3 linked regions of the Homo sapiens genome follow. The protein of the gene in region 2 purifies or fractionates together with the protein of the main gene of each other region. This does not show direct contact. Each region holds a gene or a part of one and is shown on either strand. Other genes may lie near its edges.

Evidence for each region. The genes of interacting proteins can lie anywhere in the genome.
Region 1: the proteins of ZMYND8 (region 2) and CHD4 purify together in Homo sapiens (affinity purification with mass spectrometry; 7 studies listed by BioGRID and IntAct, with this or other methods). This does not show direct contact.
Region 3: the proteins of ZMYND8 (region 2) and TSPYL1 purify together in Homo sapiens (affinity purification with mass spectrometry; 5 studies listed by BioGRID and IntAct, with this or other methods). This does not show direct contact.

What each region holds. Positions count from the first base shown.
Region 1 is NC_000012.12:6,604,366-6,612,337, forward strand, and holds the start of CHD4 (chromodomain-helicase-DNA-binding protein 4), read right to left. Parts: upstream 3,015-7,972; 5' UTR 2,935-3,014; intron 2,087-2,934; 5' UTR 2,009-2,086; coding exon 1,909-2,008; intron 1,631-1,908; exon of another isoform or gene 1,521-1,630; intron 1-1,520. UniProt on the Homo sapiens protein: ATP-dependent chromatin-remodeling factor that binds and distorts nucleosomal DNA. Acts as a component of the histone deacetylase NuRD complex which participates in the remodeling of chromatin.
Region 2 is NC_000020.11:47,234,695-47,241,712, reverse strand, and holds part of ZMYND8 (MYND-type zinc finger-containing chromatin reader ZMYND8), read left to right. Parts: intron 1-2,574; coding exon 2,575-2,955; intron 2,956-5,196; coding exon 5,197-5,387; intron 5,388-7,018. UniProt on the Homo sapiens protein: Chromatin reader that recognizes dual histone modifications such as histone H3.1 dimethylated at 'Lys-36' and histone H4 acetylated at 'Lys-16' (H3.1K36me2-H4K16ac) and histone H3 methylated at 'Lys-4' and histone H4 acetylated at 'Lys-14' (H3K4me1-H3K14ac).
Region 3 is NC_000006.12:116,276,917-116,284,323, reverse strand, and holds the start of TSPYL1 (testis-specific Y-encoded-like protein 1), read left to right. Parts: upstream 1-4,393; 5' UTR 4,394-4,493; coding exon 4,494-5,807; 3' UTR 5,808-7,407.

The sequences.
Region 1 (7,972 bases), on a different chromosome or scaffold from region 2:
CCCACTTCCTGAGCTAGACAGATACTAGGGAATGAGACATTAGGCTGGACAAAGCACCATCAGCCTCCCTGCTTCTCAGCCCAGAATAAGACCAGGCACAAGAACGCCCCTCCCATTCCCCCTTGGGAATGCAACATCAGCCTGGATTTCACCAGAAAGAATCATTTTCTTAAGGACTTTTCCCCACCAATCCCCAAGTCAACCCCCAACCCCCATCAGCTACATCTCACCACCCCCATAAAAGCTGGAAGTGGAGACAAAGACAACCCATGGAGGCAAAGGGGACATCCTTCCATGCACATGGAGCCCCCCAAACTTCTCAGGCAAATAATATGCTGAAATGGCAAACCGCAAACTTACTGAGATATAGAGAAGATTTAGGAAAGGGACAGGAATGGGGTGTGGCAAGTGGAAAAAGTGGGTCATGCTACAGCTCAGGACAGAGTTCACAGCTCCTGCGCAGCTCCCGGTCAACATGAAAGGCAGCCCCAGCCCAAGTGGCCAATGGGAGGCCAAGACGTGGAACCCAGAATGTTTAGGCAGCACTACTGTTTCTCATGCCCCTCTCAGAAGGACAGGGTCCCCTTACCAGCACCACAACTCCGCCCTCACCTTGGGCAAGGGCATGGAAATCTGCCCCCTACTCTACACAAGGATGAAACCAAGTTTCTCATCCCAACAGCCCAGACTCCATGACAACACTAACCCCTCTCCTAAATGGCCTCAGGTTGAAGTGAAGAATTCCAACTTAAAAAGTGCCAAATGTGAAAGCATCTCTCCCAGACCACCTCAACTTCCACTGAAGCTAAGAAGAGAGAAGGCAGAAGTGAATGATGCTGGATGAGAAACAAAAACAGGATCAGCAGGCTCCAGAATGAGAAGAAAACTAGAAGCAGAAGGAATGAAGAAATGACATGTAGAAAAAAAAATTAAACTAGAAAACATGAAGGTCAAGGAGATGAGTAGGTGACACAGCTAGGGGCTCTGAAAAAGGACACAGAAGAGAAAGACATCTGCTTAGGGGCATGACATCAACCATCATTTGAGGATAGACAACAGTTCCCCCAATCAGACAGGGTGGTTACAACCATACGGGTTTGGCCAGTTCATGAAGCCACCCCAAAACACAGATAGCGTAACCCCTAGCACACCTACACAGACACTTCACACTGCCAGCCTAAACCGCAGGCTACCTCATAGAGACAGAAGCCACTAGGAAAAAAGCCAAAACTATGTCCACTCACCAGGAGGAGGAGTGCCCTCCCTTCTTTTGCCCCTCTTCACTAGGCTATTACATCCTCCCCGAGCCCCCATCACTTCCCCACTCAAAACATTCCAGCAATCTGCCTGGCTGCTTTAAGCACTCCAGATCCTGCTGAGGAGCGCGATTCAAACTTCACACAGTTCAGACAGCACAGAAAACCGGTAACCGATCAGAAGCTAAAAATAATCAGATAGAGTGTAACCAGCACTCCCTCTTTCCTTTCCACAGCAGCAACCACAGGATCCTACTAGCACAGATGCCCGGCTGGTCTTTCAAACAGAATCCTCAACGCCCCCCTCCACCACCACCACCACAAGCCTCCAGGGGTCCCAGCTACCTGCATTCCTCCGAGGACCCACATACCAGGTAATGCCTGCCAGCCCAGAGAGCTCCCTCAACTGGGAACTGCAGAGCATTCCTCAAGACAGAGTGCAGCAAGCTGGCATCTCCGTGCCCAGGAGGCACATGGCTTCCACCCCCCTCACACCAGAGCTCCGCAGAAGGGAACCACTCCCTTCGGATACCCTCCACCTCCGGCTCTGCACAGAGACAGCGGAGCAACACAGCCCTGCCTCACCAGAGGAGTCACTCGGGAGAGCCCCAGATGTCTCCTTCCCGCCATGGGCCCTTGGGGAAGATGTTACCTGGGTGGGGTGGGGGCAGGCTGTTGTTCAAAAGTGCATCCATATCCTCCTCCTCACTGCCCGCCGAGCAGGGGGACGGGGAGCCCAGGCCCGACGCCATCCCCTTCCGCTCCCGGCCAGGGAATTGGCCCAGCTGCTCCTGCCGGCGGCCTGAGGACCTCTACACTGGCCCGAGTCACTGTGCGGGGGAGGGGGGAGAAACACAGAACAGTCAGTGACGCGCACTGTCCCCCTCCCCCACACCCACCCGCTCTTTCCGCCCCCCACCCCAGCCACCCTAGCAGGGCACCCGAACCGCTCAGGCTGAACTTAGTTCCACACTCCTCGGGGGCAGCCCGGAAGCCGGCTCCCCGGCAGGCGCCCCCACGGAGCGAGGGAGCGACGCCTCCGAGGGCAGGCTGGTGCAAGCGCGGGGAGGGGAGACGCGGGGCTGGACCGAGCGGGGTGTGACGGGGGAGGGGGTCCGAGTGGCAGCGGCGCGGGGGGGCCAGGGGAGGCCGCAGGCGGCGAGGCGCTCGGGGACACAAGGTCACTTGGGGGTGGGGGGGCGCCTCCCTGCGCCCGGGGAGGGGCCAGTCCCCAGACAGGGCAGCTCTCCAAAGGCTGTCCTCTGGGACAACTCAGGTTCTCCTCAAGAGCTGCGGGGACGAGGGGGCGTGGAGGCTCGGGCGCTGCGGGGGGCCGGAGGCAGGGACGCGGGGGGCGAAAGCGTCCCACCGGGAAGGGGGCCGGGCCACGTGTCCCGGGGGGCAAGTGATCAAAGGGCGAGGGGGTGGGCGCCGGGCATTGTGGGAGACCAAGCCGGAGGCGGGGGGTCGCGGGGAGCAAGACTCCGGCAGGGTTAGGGCGGGGGCTGGGGAGGAGGCCGGGCGCCCTGCAGGGCCAGGAAAGGAAGGGTCGGCTCCTCTGGGCAAGGGGCGGTCCGCGGGTCCGGAGACGCCTGAGGAAGGGGCGGGTGACGGGATGACCCTCGGGGCTGGTAGGGCCGTGAGGGGCGTCTCTTTGGGAACCCCGCGCTCTCCTCACCCCGGAGCCGCCGCAGGTCGCGCTGGGTCCGGCTCGGTGTCACTCCCGCTCCGGCTCCTCCTCGCCGCGGCCGAAGGGGGGAAAATGGCTCCGGCTCCAGCGTCGCCTCTTAAAGGGCCTGAAACACCGGCCGGGAAATCCCACCGCACAGGCCCCGCCCCCCCACGGACAGCCCATAATAACCTCAACCAACTCCAACCCCCCCCTTCCACTACCGCCACCCTCCTCCCCAGGTCTCCCGGGCAACCCCCGCCCCCTCGTCGCTCAGGCAACCACTGGCCACGCCCCCTTCGCAGCGGGCGCGCGCGCGTCACCTGGGCAACCGCCCACCTCCTGGCCATCCCATAATACACACGGACACCCCCCCCCCCAACACACACACACACACACACACACACACACACACACACACACACAACACACACACACCCTGCCCCCCCACATTTCATACACATATGCCAGAGACTGCTGACATCTCAAAATATTGCAGACCTTTTGCAACTAACCCTCTTAGACATCCCATAATAGACATCCTTTGCCAACTTCTTCTTCACTCTTGGACCTAATGCTAACATCCCATAATAATTCATCACCCCTCCCTCCCCATGGCCATCCCATAATAAGCACCCCTCGCAGCACTTATGCCTCATATCCCATAATATTCAGCCCCATCCCCCACAGACATCCCATAATAACCATCCTTCATCCACCCCCAGTTTGATATCCCATAATAGTCAGAAACTCACCCCCCCCCATACTACAACAACGGACACTCGGCCTCCTCCCACACACATCCCGTAATAATCAGTCTCCCACTTTCTATACTGACATCCCATAATAACTAACCCCCTAGAGCTGCCCTCAGTCCCTGCAGGCCAGGGTCTAGAGGCTCACATCACCCCCAGCCTTCCCTCTTCTAGCTCCACAGCCTATAGTAAGTACCCCTCCTCTATCAAAAAGATAACCCATAATGATCAACAGCCCTACTGTCGCCCCACAGATGGACATCTAATCTCTTTTCCTCTAACACTGGAAAGCTATCCCATAATAATTTTACTCTCCTACCCACATCCTGACATCCCATAATAATTGCAAGGAGCCCGTGGTCAACCAAACATACCATAATACTCCCAACACAACCCAGTGTCACATCCCATAATGCTTCATCTCCACTCTACCACCCCTATACCCTTCGAGCCAGGCATCCCATAATATTCATATTCTTCCCACCCCCATCTCCAGGCGCTGTCAGTCTATTCTAACACCCAGAGCAGGGAGGGCCAGGCAGGCTACCCACGCTTCCTTGTCCCCGCCCCCACTTGCACACACCTTAATCCCTTTCTGGGCCAAAGTAGTATCCTGGCAAAAAGCCTCCTGATGTCTGGGACCCCAGCTTCCCTCATACCATCATTTCCAGACACTCGGGGGCTGGGAGCCCACCTAGGGCCCCACCCAGTCCCACCAAAATCTAGGTATTTTCCAGATGCTTACCTCCAGCTCCTAAGTTTTGAGGAACACCAACCAACCAAAATACCAAGCTGACAGATGAAACATTTACATGAAGTCTAATTCACCCTACAGCATCCCATAATAATTACCAACTCCCATCCAAAGACTATCTCTCAACATTCTAGCAATCCTCCCCCTCACCACATCCCCAGGTCAGGGATCTTTCACCAACACCCCCAGGCCATTCCTGGGGATGGACATCCCATCACGATGTGAACTCAGGTTCCTGCTCTATACACACCAAGAGTGAAGGCCTGCCCTCCCGCTACTCACCACTACTCATGTTCATTCAACCTGTGTTGACAGAGTACCTAGCAAGGCCGAGCTCCGCACCATGGAGAATCAAGGAAGACCAGGGGGCCTCCCTTCAAAAAGCATAAGCAACCAAGCAAACTATGATACACGACAGAATGGTGCCAAGGGAGAACTGCTGAGCACTGTTTCCCAATTTCCTGTTACAGAAAATAAAATCCCACTGGTTCCAAGAGAGAACATATCCCAATAAGATTTATCGTGGTCCTTCTAGAGGCTGGAAGATGATACTTAAAGGATTTATGGGTATAGACCATAGTCAACATGATCTCCTATCTGTTCCCTACTTACTAGGGGATTTTTCTTGGAAAGCAATGTTCATCCATCCAGCATTCCTAATACTGAAATCCTATAATATGTTCATGTCCTTCCTTCTTAAGAGACTCCACAATATACCAGCATTGTTTCCCTCATTCTTGAACACCAAATCCTGCTTATCCTCAATGTCCCATATTTTTCAGGCACTTTCCCATTTTATATCCTGAAGTCTCATAGTATCTCCAATGGCCTCCATCCTCATCTTGTTGGGGCCACATTCTCCACCTCAAAAAAAAAAAAATCTTTAGTTGTATAATGTTCCCCATCTTCCCCTGCCTGTATAGAAGTCAATATTCCAGCGGGGCATGGTGGCTCATGCCTGTAATCCCAGCACTTTGGGAGGCCAAGGCAGGTGGATCACAAGGTCAGGAGTTCAAGACCAGCCTGGCCAAAATGGTGAAACCCCGTCTCTACTAAACATACAAAAATTAGCCTGACATGGTGGCACGTGCCTGTAATCCTAGCTACTCAAGGGCTGAGGCAGGAGAATTGCTTGAACCCAGGAGGTAGAGGTTGCAGGGAGCTGAGATTGCACCACTGCACTACAGCCTGGGCAACAGAGCAAGACTCTGCCTCAGAAAAAAAAAAAAAAAAAAAGAAGTCAGCAGTCCAGGAAACCTTCTACATTGAATTATGCCCCAAGGTAGCCCTCCAGCGTATACCATCTCCTTCCCTTATTATGCATACCCTCCAGCCACCCTATGGACCCAATCCTAGAAGCTGAAATAACCGAATTTTTTTTGTTTTGTTTTTTGTTTTTTTGAGAGACAGGGTCTCAGTGGCGCAATCACAGCTCACTGCAACCTCAACCTCCTGGGCTCAAGTGATCATCCCACCTCAGCCTCCCACCTGTAGCTGGAACCACGGGCATACACCACCACACCCAGCTAATTTTTAAATTTATTGTAGAGACGGGGTTTCACTATGTTGCCAGGCTGATCTTGAACTTCTGGACTCAAGTGATCTTCCCACCTCAGGAAAGAGCCTAATTTTTTTTTTTTTTTTTTTTTTTGAGACGGAGTTTCGCTCTTGTTGCCCAGGCTGGAGTGCCATGGCGCGATCTCGGCTCACTGCAACCTCAGCCTCCCAGGTTCAAGTGATTTTCCTGCCTCAGCCTCCCGGGTAGCTGGGATTACAGGCATGTGCCACCATGCCCGGCTAATTTTGTATTTTTAGTAGAGACGGGGTTTCTCCATATTGGTCAGGCTGGTCTCGAACGCCCAAACTCAGGTGATCCGCCCGCCTCGGCCTCCCAAAGTGCTGGGATTACAGGCGTGAGCCACTGCGCCTGGCCAGGAAAGAGCCCAATCTTAAAACCCTTTGGCCCTCAGAAAACCTAACCCATCAGCCTGTCACTTTTCCCTTTTCCTGACTCCCAGAGATTCAGGACCTGAGTGAAAACCAATGTCCCAGCACCACTGCCTTGCTGCCCTAACCCCAGGCCAAGGATAATGTCTCCCTCTGCTCATGTACCTTTTTTGCATGGGTCCAAGACCTATGGAAGTGGGACGAGTTGAAAAGAAACTTGGACTTCCTTGTAGAAAGGGCCCTTTACTAACCAGTAGTGAGTGGGATGAACCTCATGCCATCTCTGCATTACCCTTCTCATCTCATTTTCCTAGAGGAAGGCCTGGCCAGATGGCTCTCCCCTTCTCTAGGATCCAAGGGACTGGAGAACTGGTACAAAGAAATGAGTTCAGGGAAGGCAAGAGCTTGCCTCAGGGAATTACAATCCCCCTGCTCCTGAGCAGAGCACCAGGGATGCAGACAAGTCTTCCGCTAGCTCCTGGCTGACTCTGTAGACCCACTAGCATTCCACATTTAACTCTCCTCATCTTAGGACTGGAGTTTTTGGCATCAAAGACATCAGGTCCTGTCAAAAGCTCCCTGTCACCTTTGAAGTAGGTGTTTTCTTTTTCCAACCTTCCCTTCAGCTCCCTGGCCCACCCTCTTGCTGCACTCATTGTGGCAAGCGGGCCATTCTCCCCCGTTCTGCAAGGCTTCCAGTTTCCCTCGTTAAATGCTCTCGACATCAAGACTGGGCCCCATTTACTTACCCAAGCCCTCTCCCATACTTACTCTGAGTACTAAGAATGAAACTTGTGTTCCACAATGGGGGGTGAGGAGGCAGCTCTTTTCAGATACCATGATGTGGGGACACCTCCTTTCAGGGAAGTTTCTCCTTCCTACAGAGGGCTGCCAGATGCCTATTGTGCGCTCTTCTACCCTCATTTCTCCAGGGGATCCAGCCTGTCTCTGGGCCTCAAATTCCCTTCTGCAATATCTCCATCTGCCCATACCCATACTCTCATTTCCACAGTGATCTGTCCATATAAACCAGTAAGAGAGCGTTTGGGTAGTCACAGCCTCCTGCCTGTGACTAAAAATATCCACATTTTATTTATCCATATATCCTTTGTCCACTACTCACCCTGTGTCCCTATTCCTGTAGGTTCTACCCACTTCTTCCTTTGCTGCTCTTGCTCCCCACCTCTCCCTAACACCACAACAAGGAGAAAGTTAAAATCCCTTCCTCTCTTCTTGAGTTCCAGAAAGGGCTCGGAGGTGTGTGCTGGTGTGTTGCTTTGTAGTCCTTATGCTTCTACGCTTCCCCTCCCTCCTCTAGCCCCGTGCTACCCTCCCAGATAAATTATAAATAAACCACTAGCATGACTGGCCCAGGGAGACTAAGGGTGGCATAATCTCCTAATTAATGCACCCAGGAGGGCAGCCTCTCTAGCCAGTTACCTTAGAGTTCTGTTTTCATCCCATGGTACAGAAGAACCTAGAACAACACTCAGAGTGGGTTGTTCATGGAGTTTTTAGCATTTGCTCTATAATTCCTCTCCTTACACCTCTGTTTTGTGTGAACCTGAAAAACTCTGTTCATAAGAGGTCC
Region 2 (7,018 bases):
CAGATATCCTCTCTGGGGCATAGGCTCACCTTACCGGGGGCTGAGGCCTGTGCATCCATAACTGAGCCACCTTTACAAATGAGCTCCCGTGTGGTCATCGCCTCTACGTGCTGCTCAGTGCTTCTGGCTCTAACCTCCCTTCCAGCCCCTCCTCCCTGCCTGCCCTCACTTACTCAAATGCTCTGTATTCCTAGACATATCTTGGCTGATGCTGTTCCCTCCAGATTCTCACTTTCCGCCTGTTGAAATCCTACCCTTTATTCCCCACCAGCCCAGCTCCTCCAAGATGACATACTCCATATGGCAGCGTTTTTCAAACTTGAGTCATTCACATTCATTGTCTTTCCCGTTCTCAAGTCCTGCTTGTATAATTTTTGACTTTTTTTATTTAAAGAATCTTTTTTTTTTTTTTTTTTTTGAGACGGAGTCTCGCCCTGTCACCCAGGCTGGAGTGCAATGGGGCGATTTCGGCTCACTGCAACCTCTGCCTCATGGGTTCAAGCGATTCTCCTGCCTCAGCCTCCCAAGTAGCTGGGATTATAGGCACACACCACCATGCCCGGCTAATTTTTTGTATCTTTAGTAGAGATGGGGTTTCACCATGTTGGCCAGACTGGTTTCGAACTCCTGACTTCGTGATCTGCCCGCCTCGGCCTCCCAAAGTGCTGGGATTACAGGCGTGAGCCACTGCACCCGGCCAAGAATCTCATTCTTTAAAAATAAAATTAAGCTCATTTAAAGCGGGACACAGTAGCACGTCCCGTGTAGTCCCAGCTATTCGGGAGGCTGAAGTGGCTTGCTTGAGCCCAGCCGGGGTGATATAGCAAAACTCTATCTCTTTAAAACATAAAATAAAATAGGCCGGGCACGTTGGCTCACGCCTGTAATTCCAGCACTTTAGGAGGCCAAGGCGGATGGATCATGAGGTCAGGAGTTCAAGACCAGCCTGGGCAAGATGGCGAAACCCCGTCTCTGCTGAAAATAAAAAAAATTAGCTGGGTGCGGTGGCAGGCGCCTGTAATCCCACGTAGTCGGGAGGCTGAGGCAGGAGAATCGCTTGAACTCAGAGGGCGGAGGTTGCAGTGAGCCAAGTTTGTGCCACTGCACTCCACCCTGGGTGACAGAGTGAGAATCCATCTCAATAAATAAATAAAATAAACTCATTTTATTTACTTTTCATTTATTATTATTATTATTTTGAGACGGAGTCTCACCCTGTCACCCAGGCTGGAGTGCAATGGCATGGTCTCGGCTCCCTGCAACCTCCACGTCCCGGGTTCAAGCGATTCTTCTGCCTCAGCCTCTTGAGTAGCTGGGACTACAGGCGCCTGCCACCGCACCCGGCTATTTTTGTATTTTCGGTAGAGACGGGGTTTCACTATGTTGGCCAGGCTGCTCTTGAACTCCTGACCACAAGTGATCCGCCCACCTCAGCCTCCTAAAGTGTTGGGATTACAGGCGTGAGCCACTGCGCCCGGCCTATTAGTAATATTTTTTGAGACGGAGTCTCACTCACTCTTTCTCACAGACCGGAGTGCAGTGGCGCGATCTCGGCTCACTGCAACTTCCGCCTCCTGGGTTCAAGGAATTCTCCTGCCTCAGTTTCCCACCACGTCTGGCTAATTTTTTTGTATTTTTAATAGAGACGGGGTTTCCCCATGTTGGTCAGGCTGGTCTCAAAATCCTGACCTCAAGTGATCCGCCTGCCTCAGCCTCCCGAAGTGCTGGGATTACAGGCGTGAGCCACCGTGCTTGGCCTCATTTTTTTAGTAAAAAAATTTCCCCTGAAAAAAGCATCTGCAAGTATAAACTCATTTTAGACTTGAACACCACCCAATAAGAACAGTAGCACACAGTATACATAAAAGCTGGTGATAGGAATAAATCCAATCAAAACCAAAGCAATGCTACTCAATCCTAGATCAGTACCATTGCGTTGGGGGAAGGTTCTGGCCTTGGGGCAGAATTTGTTTTCCTGGTATTGTCCTGGCTATCAGTACCGCCTTCAAACTTTGTCCTGGAGGGAATCAGAAGAGATGAAAAGAATACTTTTCTTTCTGGGTGACTGAGTGTTACTGCTTTGGCCATTGGGAGGCCATCTGGCTCTTTGGAGGTATTGCTTTCTACGTTCCCTAGCCAAAGAATTGCTCTTCCTGTCTGGATTGACTTCCGCTGGGCCCTTCTCAAGGTGCCGACTAGATTTTAACTTTGCGAAAAGGGCGTGAACATTGAATCTGTTCGCCCACCGCATTGTCCACTAGGTGTAGGGGAGCTTGAGCGCAGGAGCCGGGTCTTGTTTGCCTCATTCTCCCCTAGAGGTCTTGACTTGTATCTCAGATGTGGGCCGGCGCTCAGTAAAGGAGGCCGCTGCTCGCGGAGATGGAAGACGCCGCAGAAGTGGCCTCAGCGTTAGGTGAGAATGTACTCCTCCAGCGCGGTGTGCTTGGCACGTCGAATTGGTTCGGCATTCCTGGCTTTCATAGGTTTTACCCAGAACTTGGTGGCGTCAAGACCGTGCAGGTGAACCTGAGTGAAATCCGGTTTTTGTTTGTTTTTTCTTCATGCATTGGCTAGTTGTAGGTAAAACTCCACCATCCACGACGGTGGGCAGCCATTCTCCCCCGGAAACACCGGTGCTCACCCGCTCTTCCGCCCAAACTTCCGCGGCTGGCGCCACAGCCACCACCAGCACGTCCTCCACGGTCACCGTCACGGCCCCGGCCCCCGCCGCCACAGGAAGCCCAGTGAAAAAGCAGAGGCCGCTTTTACCGAAGGAGACTGCCCCGGCCGTGCAGCGGGTCGTGTGGAACTCATCAAGTAAGTTTCAAACGTCCTCCCAAAAGTGGCACATGCAGAAGATGCAGCGTCAGCAGCAGCAGCAGCAGCAGCAAAACCAGCAGCAGCAGCCTCAGTCTTCCCAGGGGACGAGATATCAGACCAGACAGGCTGTGAAAGGTACCGAGCCTCCCCTTCTGTTCTCCGTGGCGCCCGCTCCCATTTTGCCACATCGACAGGAGAAAGTCATTGCTCTTTTATTTTTTTTTTTTAGTTCTCGTTTGTTTCCGGGCCATTGTATCTTGAAGGCCTTGCACATTCCATTTGGCATTATTTTTAAAAATTGTTTTGCTACTTGCTTTTTTACTTTCAAAAAGTTTTTTTTGTTCATTTTATAAATGATACATGCATATATTCTCCTTAAAAAGGGGGCAGAAAGTTTTACATAAAAGTCTGTTATCCCGTTTACCTTCCATTTCATTCTCTTCCCTTCCACAGTGGCCAGTATCAACCGTTGTAAAAGCTTTTCTATGCATGTATGCATGTATATGTATATATACATATCTGTATGTATATATGTGCGCATCATGTATATGATGCCATAAAATTAGTCCTTTTTCCCCCCTTTTTTTCTTTTTTAAAACATAAAAATGGTACCATACTTGCTTTTTTCCCCCACCCATCAGCATGTTTTGGAGGTCCATCCACATCAGCACATACAGCCCTGCCTTGTTCTTTTGGACTGCTGCATAGTATTTCATAGTTTATTTAAAGCATTCCTCTACTAATGGGCATTTAGGTTGCTTTCAGTTTTTTTTCTACTGTGAGCAGTGCTGCAATGAATATCTTTGTATAAATTTCCTTGTGCACATGAGGGAACCTCTTGGAGTTATTTTGGAAAAAGTACAGTGCGAGAAGTTGATAGCGAAGGTTACCTTAGTAACTGGAGATTCGTCACACACACAAGATGAGCCAGCCTCAAGAACCACTTGCTGAAGTTGCAGAATCAGAACTCCCACCAGTCCTGCAGGAGGCTCCATCTGGAGCTGAAATTAGGCCAAACACAGTGCTGATCTGACTGGTTGGTACCAGTTTGCCTGGCTTTTGTGAGCATTGATGTAGATCTTTCTACCAGGAAACCTGCATCTAGATCCTCAAAGGCTGGGTTCTTCAACTGAAACTCATAGTGAATGCGCCCCTGTGAGGGGGGCTCATGAGCAGCAGAATGTGAGGTTGAAAGGTGGCCAGGTCTTGAATTGGCCCCCAGTGAAACCCTTCACAGATGGCGAGGGAGTGGGTCCTGAAGAATTGGCCAGGCAAAATTGAGAGTACAGTTGGATTAATCTTGCTATTTAAAAAGTTGGTGGGGCAAAGCCGAGTCTAGGATATTTGAGATTGGGATTGCGGCTTCCTGTCTTCTGTCTTCATATCTCATAAGCAGGAGACTTCCCCAGGGGAGTTTAATTGCTACCAAGAAGAGGGTCGGGCGTGGTGGCTCACACCTGTAATCCCAGCACTTTGGGAGGCCAAGGCAGGCAGATCACTTGAGGCCAGGAGTTCAAGACCAGCCCAGTCAACATGGTGAAACCCCATCTCTACTAAAATGGAAAAAAAAAAAAAAAGCAAAAAACTAGCCGGGCATGATGGCACATGCCCGTAACCCTGGCTACTCAGGAGGGAGGCATGAGAATCCCTTGAACCTCAGAGGTAGAGGTTGCAGTGAGCTAAGATTGCACCACTGCACTCCAGCCTGGGCGACAGAGTGAGACTGTCAAAAAAAAAAAAAAGAGCGCTGCCAAAAAGTGGCTCATTGCTTCAGATTGTCTTACGCCAAAGTAAAGCCTAGTTAAAGGGGTAAAGACCAATTTAAATTGGTAATATGCTACTGTAATAGGGGCAAGAGTCTAGCATAAGCTGAAATTAACTTTGATTTGTACAGGGGTGACTGGACATTTTAAAGGGAGAATGAGGGAGTAGGGATGGGAGCGAGTTGGGCCTCAGTAGAGTCAGGGAAGTTAAACATCTTGATTTGCTAACGGGCACTTCATGAAGTTGGGCCCCTACTCTCCCATAGACACTGGGATGCTGAGGTCCTGTCTTCAGGTGTTGGCTGGAACAAAACTGTCAGTTCTTTTGCCAGCATTGAGTTTTCCCAGGCAGTCGCTTTAAGAGGGGGTTGGGGTCATCCTAGCATGCACTCTTGAGCTCTTAGAAACTGTCAATGTTTGCTCAAGTCTTTCCAGGCCAAGGTTAGGGCCTAGTTGAGAAACCTGGATAGAGTTTGGTCAAGGGGAGCATCTTTGTCATTTAAAAGTAGAAAAGCTCTCAGGATGTCTATTAGGGGCTTTGCTTCTACACCACAGCTTTGTGCTGGGATGGGTCCTTCCCACGTGGGGTAATCAGGATGCTTTGCCTTCCTAGCTGTCCAGCAGAAGGAGATCACACAGAGCCCATCCACGTCCACCATCACCCTGGTGACCAGCACACAGTCATCGCCCCTGGTCACCAGCTCGGGGTCCATGAGCACCCTTGTGTCCTCAGTCAACGCTGACCTGCCCATCGCCACTGCCTCAGCTGATGTCGCCGCTGATATTGCCAAGTACACTAGCAAAGTGAGTGGATGGGAGAGCTACCGTGGAGATGGCAGACACCTGGCAGGATGCCAGAATCTTGGTCTCCCGAGGGGAAGCGTGAGCGTCTTAACCTTGCAGTCTTTAGGGAGTGAAGACCCTTTTTTTTAAAAACAGAATCTCCAAGACCACGTTCTTTAATTTGGGTCTAACAGAGAAATGTAGAATGGACTGAATCTTACTCCAAGTGGGCTTAGATTCTAAAGTCAGTTCATAAAGTGCAAATGACATAATCAGAATTACCTTCGAGAATTCAAGTCACTCATTAAGGCACTGGAACACATGACTGATCCTTCAGTGAACAGCTGACCAGGGGTTTGGTTTGCATTTAGAGCTTTGCATGTGGAGCAGAAGTGACAGAGACTTAAACATGAGACTGGCAAGGTGAGATGCCCACACTTTGATTTTTCCAGGAATCAAGATGGATGGGGAGGGGGACCAAGGGGACTCCCTCTCCCCTGTCTCCTGCCCTCTGGGGCACAGTCCCCATTAAGTGGCATGGTGGGCAGGATTGCCTGTTGTTGGTGAACTCATGGGAACTGTCTCAGCACAGGCCCCTTCTTTTTTTCTCTTAAGTTGCCAAGTGCTTTTTTTTTTTTTTGAGATGGAGTCTCACTCTGTTCCCCAGGCTGGAGTGCAGTGACACAATCTCGTCTCACTGCAACCTCCGCCTCCTGGGTTCAAGCAATTCTCCTGCCTCAGCCTCCCAAGTAGCTGGGACTACAGGCACGCGCCACCATGCCTGGCTAATCTTTGTATTTTTTTAGTAGAGATGGGGTTTCGCCATGTCGACCAGGCTGGTCTCAAACTCCTGACCTCGGGTGATCCACCCACCTCGGCCTCTCAAAGTGCTGGGATTACAGGTGTGAGCCACCAGGCCCGGCCTGCCAAGTGCTTTTATGGTCACTGTTGAATTCAGGTAGATACCATCTGCAGTTCTCAGCGTCATGTGAGAGTGCGCTGGACTGATGTGCTGTGTATCTTGTCATTAGACCACGGTGGTAATAATAACCACCAGAATGTCAGGTCCACAAAGGCAGGAATTTTTGTCTGTTTTGCTCACTGCCAAGGCCTAGAACAATGCCTGGCATGTAGTAAGTGCTTGACCCATAGTTGGGCTTTGTTTTTATTGGCTTCAATTATTATCAATAACTTAATAATAGCTATTGATTTATAATCTACTGAGATTAGTTAGTAAATTACTAAGTAGTTAATAATTTATTCTTTACTGATGAGTAGATTACTAATACTGATGAGTAAACAGTTCTAGTTTTTAGAATGGATGAAAATAATTGAGGATGGTTGTTTCTAGAATTCTTTCTTTTTAAAAAATGCAAACAGGGTCTCATTTTGTTGCCCAGGCTGGTCTCAAACTCCTGGCCTCAAGTGATCTTCCTGCCTAGTCCTCCCAAAGTGTTGGGATTACAGGTGTGAGCCACCACACCCAGCCTGTTTCTAAAATTCTTATAGTCTTAATAATAAAGAGTTAGCTTTATTATATTGAGTTAAGGGAAGAGGAATCTTTTAAAATTCTGAGTGGTGAGAGAAATATATATGAATTTTTTTTTTTACACAAATGAGTTTTCATTGGTCATGTTTCTTTTTATTTCTTC
Region 3 (7,407 bases), on a different chromosome or scaffold from region 2:
AAAAGATGTGACACACTGGATGTTGTTTATAAAAGTGGCTGGTACATCAGGAGCAGTAAATAAGTGAAAGCTATCATTAATTATAATGATAAAACCTACCTTTCTGCAAAACAAAAATGTCTGAACTTCCGCTAAACTCCTTGCTACCTGAGAAATCATTCCCAAAGAATCTATGATTCCTTGATATTATGGAGAAAAACCTCAGGGTTTTTTGCAGATGTTTTCCCATAGAACTGTATTAGAAAAGATTCAACTATCTTTGGGGGTAGTGAAGTTTATTGTCAATTACAGAAATGCTCTGTCATGGACCAATTTATCCTATATTTTAAAGTGCAAAAAAGGTGATATATGAAGCATAGCCAAAATGTATTTCCTCTGCAAATAAAATATGCCAGTACAGATACACTGTTGTTTTTGTAAGATAATTTGAGGTTTATTTTATTCAAATGAACAAATATTGTTAAGAATCTACCCAAATCTAGCCGGGCGCAGTGGCTCATGCCTGTAATCCCAGCACTTTGGGAGGCTGAGGCGGGCGGATCACCTGAGGTCGGGAATTCGAGACCAGCCTGACCAACGTGGGGAAACCCCTTCTCTACTAAAAATACAAAAATTAGCCGTGTGTGGTGGCCAGTGTCTGTAGTCCCAGCTACACGGGAGGCTGAGGCAGGAGAATTGCTTGAACCTGGGAGGCAGAGGTTGCAGTGAGCCAAGATCATGCCACTGCACTCCAGCCTGGGCGACAGAGTGAGACTCCATAACAACAACAACAACAACAACAACAACAACAACAACAAAGAATCTACCCAAACCTGAGCCCCATGCTATGATGAATAAATGCAAAAGAAGCTGCAACTATGCTCCCATCCCATGAGATGATGCTGGAATGCTGGGATGATGAGACTGACACATATAAATCAACTAGTCCCTAAGAGGAGAAGCACAATTAAGTGCTAAACTGCATGGTGCAGCTCATAAAAGAGTTGCAGGAATTCAGGTGAGGAAGATTAAGGAGCCATAGGCTACTTAGGAAAGATGCACTCAGGAGAAGGGAGAAAGAATTTACCAGTTACTTTATGTATGACTTTGGTAAAGTTAGTTAGCCTCTCAGTGTTACTGTTTCCTCTTTTATGAAATTTGACACTTTAATGCATGTAAAATGCCTAGCACATTTTAAAGCAAGACAGGTTTTTGGTAAGTCTTAGAGAATGTGTAACATCTACCCAGAAAGAGAATTCCCAGATAGCAGGATAACCTGTGTCATGTAAAAGAAACAGGTATCCTTTTTAAGCCTTTTTAGATACAAAAAGGTGAACAAAAAATCCACAAGTAATAGTCCTACTATAATAAGTACAATATTCTGTGTTGAATAGCAACCACAGCTTTGCCTGTATGGCAAAATAACTCCCTGAGCACGTGAGCCTTGGTGCATGTTGACATTCCTAGAGAGTTCCTCCTTCCAAGCAAAGATTCTTTCTTTAAAAAAAAATAGGACATAAAGTATGCATATTTGCTTTTCCCTCTAAAATCCTTGCCCTTTACTGACCCTTCTCCTGAGCACTTGTCCGAAAGCAATCATAACCTGAGCTTTCCATCACCTACAAGGAATAGTTATAATCACAATCACTTCTCTAATGTAATTTTCTTCTAATACACAGAGAACATGAGATACATTACTTCTAATTTTAAATCACGTTCTCTATATATTCAAATATTCCTTATCACAGCTTTATACATGTTCGACAAGAAGAGAAGGAAGAGTTCCTTTAAAGAGTCTCAACGTTATTTGGGGGAAATTACATTCAGCAGAGTCCTGATTATACTTACATGATCCTAATTAGAGTTTTCCTAGCATTACTGGTAAGAGTGTTAATTACATTAATTACATAATGGCTTCTTTGACAAATAAAGCCATATATTCTAAGATTGGTCCAAGCCTGACACTCCTTTCTGCTTAAAAAAAAATAGGAGACATATTGGAATAATAGAAGTTTCCACTTTAGGCCGAATGAAATTATACCAGTTCAAAATAGAAGATGATTTCATGGCAATTAGAAACAGTCTTTGTGGAAAGTTCCAATATTCCTTTTTATTTACACCAAAAGTAATTCCAGCCATGCATCACAGGCTCCATCACTTGTAGAGAGAAATGCATTATATATTTCTGTAGACAGAAACGAAGTAAAGCCTGAAATGATTACCTTGACTTTTTCAGAAAGGAGAGAATTGGAAATACAGTGCTGGTAGTCCGAGGCTTTGATATGTAAACTCACCTAAATATGCTGGTCTTTTCAGAGTTCGTTTGTCATACAGTGTGACCACACAAACTTAAATTATTTGTAAAATAAAATTGTTTTCTCTGTGTTTTTCCTATCCTTTTAGAGCCTTTGAAACATATATAGAAATTCATTCTCCTGAGTAGGAAACTGTTACTATATAGAATAGAGCAGCCCTCTGGTTTGCCAGTGGCAGATAGGAAGGAGAGCAGAGTGACAACCCATATGCCCCTTACTTCTCTTCCGCAAGGAGCAAGTTGCAAGCAAGAGAAACTGTTTTCTGCTCATTTGCTCCTTTATTTAACATTTTAATAATCTATGGGATACTGTGTAAGGTAGTGTGCTAGGCACTCGATAAACAGAGGGAAACGAAACCATGATCATGTCCTCTTGCAGTTTACAGTCTCCTCAGATATCGTTTGTGGTATGTTTAGGCTTTAATTTTGTCTTTCTGTGCATTTGCCTAAGTATATTTCTGGTCTTGATATTGAAAGACAGATTCAAGCTGTAATACATCACAGCTGTTGGGCAGGAACTCACGGGAAGCCATGAGCAAGGTAGAAGGGGCTGCTATTAGAAACAACTTGAGGCACCCATAGATGCAACCAAACCTTAATCCAAGGTGTATTCATTTCATATTGCTTCTGTAACAAATTACCACAAATTTAATAGCTTAAAATGCACAAATTTATTTTCTTATAGTGCTGGAGTTTAGAGGTAATAACCTCAAGGTGTTGTCATTCCTTTGGAGGCTCTAGGATTGAATCTATTTCCTTACCTTTCAAGCTTCTAGAGGCTGCCTTTATTCCTACGATCCTGGCTCCTTCCTCCATCTTCAAAGCCAGCAACATAGCGATTTCCCTTTCCTCCCTCCCACACCTATTCTCCACCATTCCTTCCCTCTCTCTGTGCTTTCGTCCTCTTATCTTCTCTGACTGACCCTCCTGCCTCCTTCTTATAAGAAATTTGTAATTCCATAGGGCCCACCTGTATAATCCAGAATCATCTTCTCATCTCCAAATCTTTAACTTAATCATATCTGCGAAGTCCCTTTGGCCGCATAACTAAGACAGGTACATCTTTGAGGGCCATCAGGCTACTACCACACAAAGCAAATTAAGTAGAAAATAACGTTTGCCTCTTTTATACCTTGAGTCCACCAGCTGCATGTTGCCCTTTGCAAGTTTGTTTTCTACTTCAAGGCCATCTTAGTTGTCCATTTTAACTAGCCTTTCCTCACAAAATGGTGGTATGTGGCTCCCCCCACTGATATTTCTCTGAGGCCTTGTAGCTCTCTAAGACAGCACCAGTTTAACTCACAAGTCAACAAACTGGAACACTTCAACCAGAGACATTGACATCCCCCTCTAATGAACTCAGCTGATTGCTAAAGACAGATGCTTCGTTAGAGCCAAACATTCCTATCTTACATAACTAAATATGATAATAAATTAAGTTCTTGGGGCTGGAAATAGTTATAATTTCCTCTTTCTTGCAGTGAAAAGGCATGGAACATTTAGCAAACTGATCCTGGCTTAATTTCTACCGATACTATGCAGCACAAACTCTTATTTGATGCAGATTATAAATCGAAAATTAGCAATGAATACTATGCATCGCTTTAGTGGTAAGAGGCTGCTGAGTAGCTTTTTTTCCCCAGTAACCGTAGAGGCAAGAATTGATATTTTTATGTCACTTTTACTAAGAAGGGGGGAAACATTTTGCTATTAATCTTAAAGAGAAGTCTTTTGCTGCTAGTTACGTGGAGTAACAGGGAATAGATTTACCTTCCTGCCTCAAAAAAGTGAAGACCAGAAAAACATTTGTTTTCAGACACTGGAGAGCAGGCACTGTTACGGCTGTGATTTTACAACTGCTCCTACATGCTGGGAGCAGTCGCTAGATGCATCTCAAGGTGGGTCGTCCGCGCTTCCAGACTCAGCACAATCGACATTTATTTACGTAGGTAAAATTACTGTTGCTATGGGTAAATTCACAGAAATAAAGCCCAGAGAATCCGGTTGGCTGGCAGGGAGCGGCGGAACCAATCCCGGGCTCAGCAAGTTCTCGCGATACCGTGAGATCTCCAGTCCTGACGACACCGCCGCTGAAATGTTAGTGAGACTGTAGGGTGGGCGGTGCGAGCGGCGGTTAGCTCCCAGTTCGGCCTCTGAGGAAAACGGGCGTTCGCCTGCGGTTGGTCCGACTGTTAGCAACATGAGCGGCCTGGATGGGGTCAAGAGGACCACTCCCCTCCAAACCCACAGCATCATTATTTCTGACCAAGTCCCGAGCGACCAGGACGCACACCAGTACCTGAGGCTCCGCGACCAAAGCGAGGCGACACAGGTGATGGCGGAGCCGGGTGAGGGAGGCTCGGAGACCGTCGCGCTCCCGCCTCCACCGCCTTCAGAGGAGGGGGGCGTACCCCAGGATGCCGCGGGCCGTGGCGGTACTCCCCAGATCCGAGTTGTTGGGGGTCGCGGTCATGTGGCGATCAAAGCCGGGCAGGAAGAGGGCCAGCCTCCCGCCGAAGGCCTGGCAGCCGCTTCTGTGGTGATGGCAGCCGACCGCAGCCTGAAAAAGGGCGTTCAGGGTGGAGAGAAGGCCCTAGAAATCTGTGGCGCCCAGAGATCCGCGTCTGAGCTGACGGCGGGGGCGGAGGCTGAGGCGGAGGAGGTGAAGACAGGAAAGTGCGCCACCGTCTCAGCAGCCGTGGCTGAGAGGGAGAGCGCTGAGGTGGTGAAGGAAGGCCTGGCGGAGAAGGAGGTAATGGAGGAGCAGATGGAGGTAGAGGAGCAGCCGCCAGAAGGTGAAGAAATAGAAGTGGCGGAGGAGGATAGATTGGAGGAGGAGGCGAGGGAGGAAGAAGGGCCCTGGCCTTTGCATGAGGCTCTCCGCATGGACCCTCTGGAGGCCATCCAGCTGGAACTGGACACTGTGAATGCTCAGGCCGACAGGGCCTTCCAACAGCTGGAGCACAAGTTTGGGCGGATGCGTCGACACTACCTGGAGCGGAGGAACTACATCATTCAGAATATCCCGGGCTTCTGGATGACTGCTTTTCGAAACCACCCCCAGTTGTCCGCCATGATTAGGGGCCAAGATGCAGAGATGTTAAGGTACATAACCAATTTAGAGGTGAAGGAACTCAGACACCCTAGAACCGGTTGCAAGTTCAAGTTCTTCTTTAGAAGAAACCCCTACTTCAGAAACAAGCTGATTGTCAAGGAATATGAGGTAAGATCCTCCGGCCGAGTGGTGTCTCTTTCTACTCCAATTATATGGCGCAGGGGGCATGAACCCCAGTCCTTCATTCGCAGAAACCAAGACCTCATCTGCAGCTTCTTCACTTGGTTTTCAGACCACAGCCTTCCAGAGTCCGACAAAATTGCTGAGATTATTAAAGAGGATCTGTGGCCAAATCCACTGCAATACTACCTGTTGCGTGAAGGAGTCCGTAGAGCCCGACGTCGCCCGCTAAGGGAGCCTGTAGAGATCCCCAGGCCCTTTGGGTTCCAGTCTGGTTAACATTTGCCCTTGGGAATACTCCTGCACAAGGTCTCCTACCACCTTCTGCTGGACCTGTGCTTGGGCATCAGCAATGAGTATGCCTTCTATTGTGCTTTGTTTTTGCTGACTTTTCTGCACCCTGTTTCCTTTGGATATTCAGTTCTCTCAACCTCAAGATTGAGACGGTGGTGGGTATGCTTCTCCACTTCCATATGACCTTCATGCTGTTCTGGAATATCACATGCTACGAGGTCATCCTTCACACTACTTGTAAGCCAAGCAAATGATACTGTAGATTGTACTGCCTTTATCTGCACTGCTTGGACCCTGTTTATTCCCAGGGCCTCTGAACTGGTTGCTGTCACTTGGATTTCTAGCTTTGGGAGCCTGTTCCACCTACTCAGCTCTGCATTGAGCAGTATGGGCACATGCCCTGTGGACAGTTACTGGACGTTAATGAACTCAGAGGAGAAAAGCAGTGAGCCACTTGTTCTGTGTGATTTATGGTACTTCATTGCTCTTCCTTCACCTCTAGTCACTTTCTATTGCTACCTGCCCTACATTGGCTCCTGCCAAGGTCCCTCTCTCTCCCTGTTTTCCTTTTTTTTTTTTTTTTTTTTTTTTTTGAGACGGAGGACGGAGTCTTGCTCTGTCGCCCAGGTTGGAGTGCAGTGGCGCGATCTCGGCTCACTGCAACCTCCACCTCCCGGGTTCAAGCGATTCTCCTGCCTCAGCCTCCCGAGTAGCTGGGACTACAGGCGCGCGCCGCCACGCCCGGCTAATTTTTATATTTTTAGTAGAGACGGGGTTTCACCATGCTGGCCAGGCTGGTCTCGAACCCCGATCTCGTGATCCGCCCTCCTTAGCCTCCCAATCCTCTCTTAAAAAAGTGATAGCTCAGAAACATTTGTAAAAGCAAGGTTTTTATTTCATTTTGGCTCTGTCATTTTCAGAGGCAAAGAAGTTGGCCTGTAAAATAGAGTGCTAGAGCTCTTACGCCCCTCCCCTTCTTCCCAACTTCCTACTTCCTAGCCCTTTTATCAACTCCTAGAATAGTTAAAGAGAGACACATCTAGATGGGATGAAAGGTGCCCTAAGCAGGAGAAACTGAACAAAAGGCTAGAGGCATGGGCCAGGTAAAAATTGGGCCTAGAGTGAAGACTGTGCTGTCGTTAAGAGCTTTCGAGGAAGGAGTACTTACTCCCCAATGATGATGAATGGAAAAATACTTTTCAGGGAGAATTGAAGGGGTTAAAGTGTTAAATATGTTGCCTAGACAAGGGTTCTTTAAAGAAAGACAGCGCAACTTTGAATGCTTTCTTACTTGTTTTGTGACCTAATTTATGTGGAAGATTGTTATTTCATTAGGATTTAGTAAAATTTTTTTTTCTGATTCTAAACTTATTGTGAAAATTGAGCTGTACAGATATTCTTTTGATTTCAATTGGGAACATTTGGAAGAACAACAGTCTTACTTGCCTGTACAATATAGAGACATATGAATAGTCATAACAGTTTTCAACTTGTTCTTGTTTCTGTTAAACTATATTCCTAGAAACATAGTTTGAACAACTTGGTCTTTGTTAGGCTTGTCAAATTGCCTTCATGGAAAAATAAT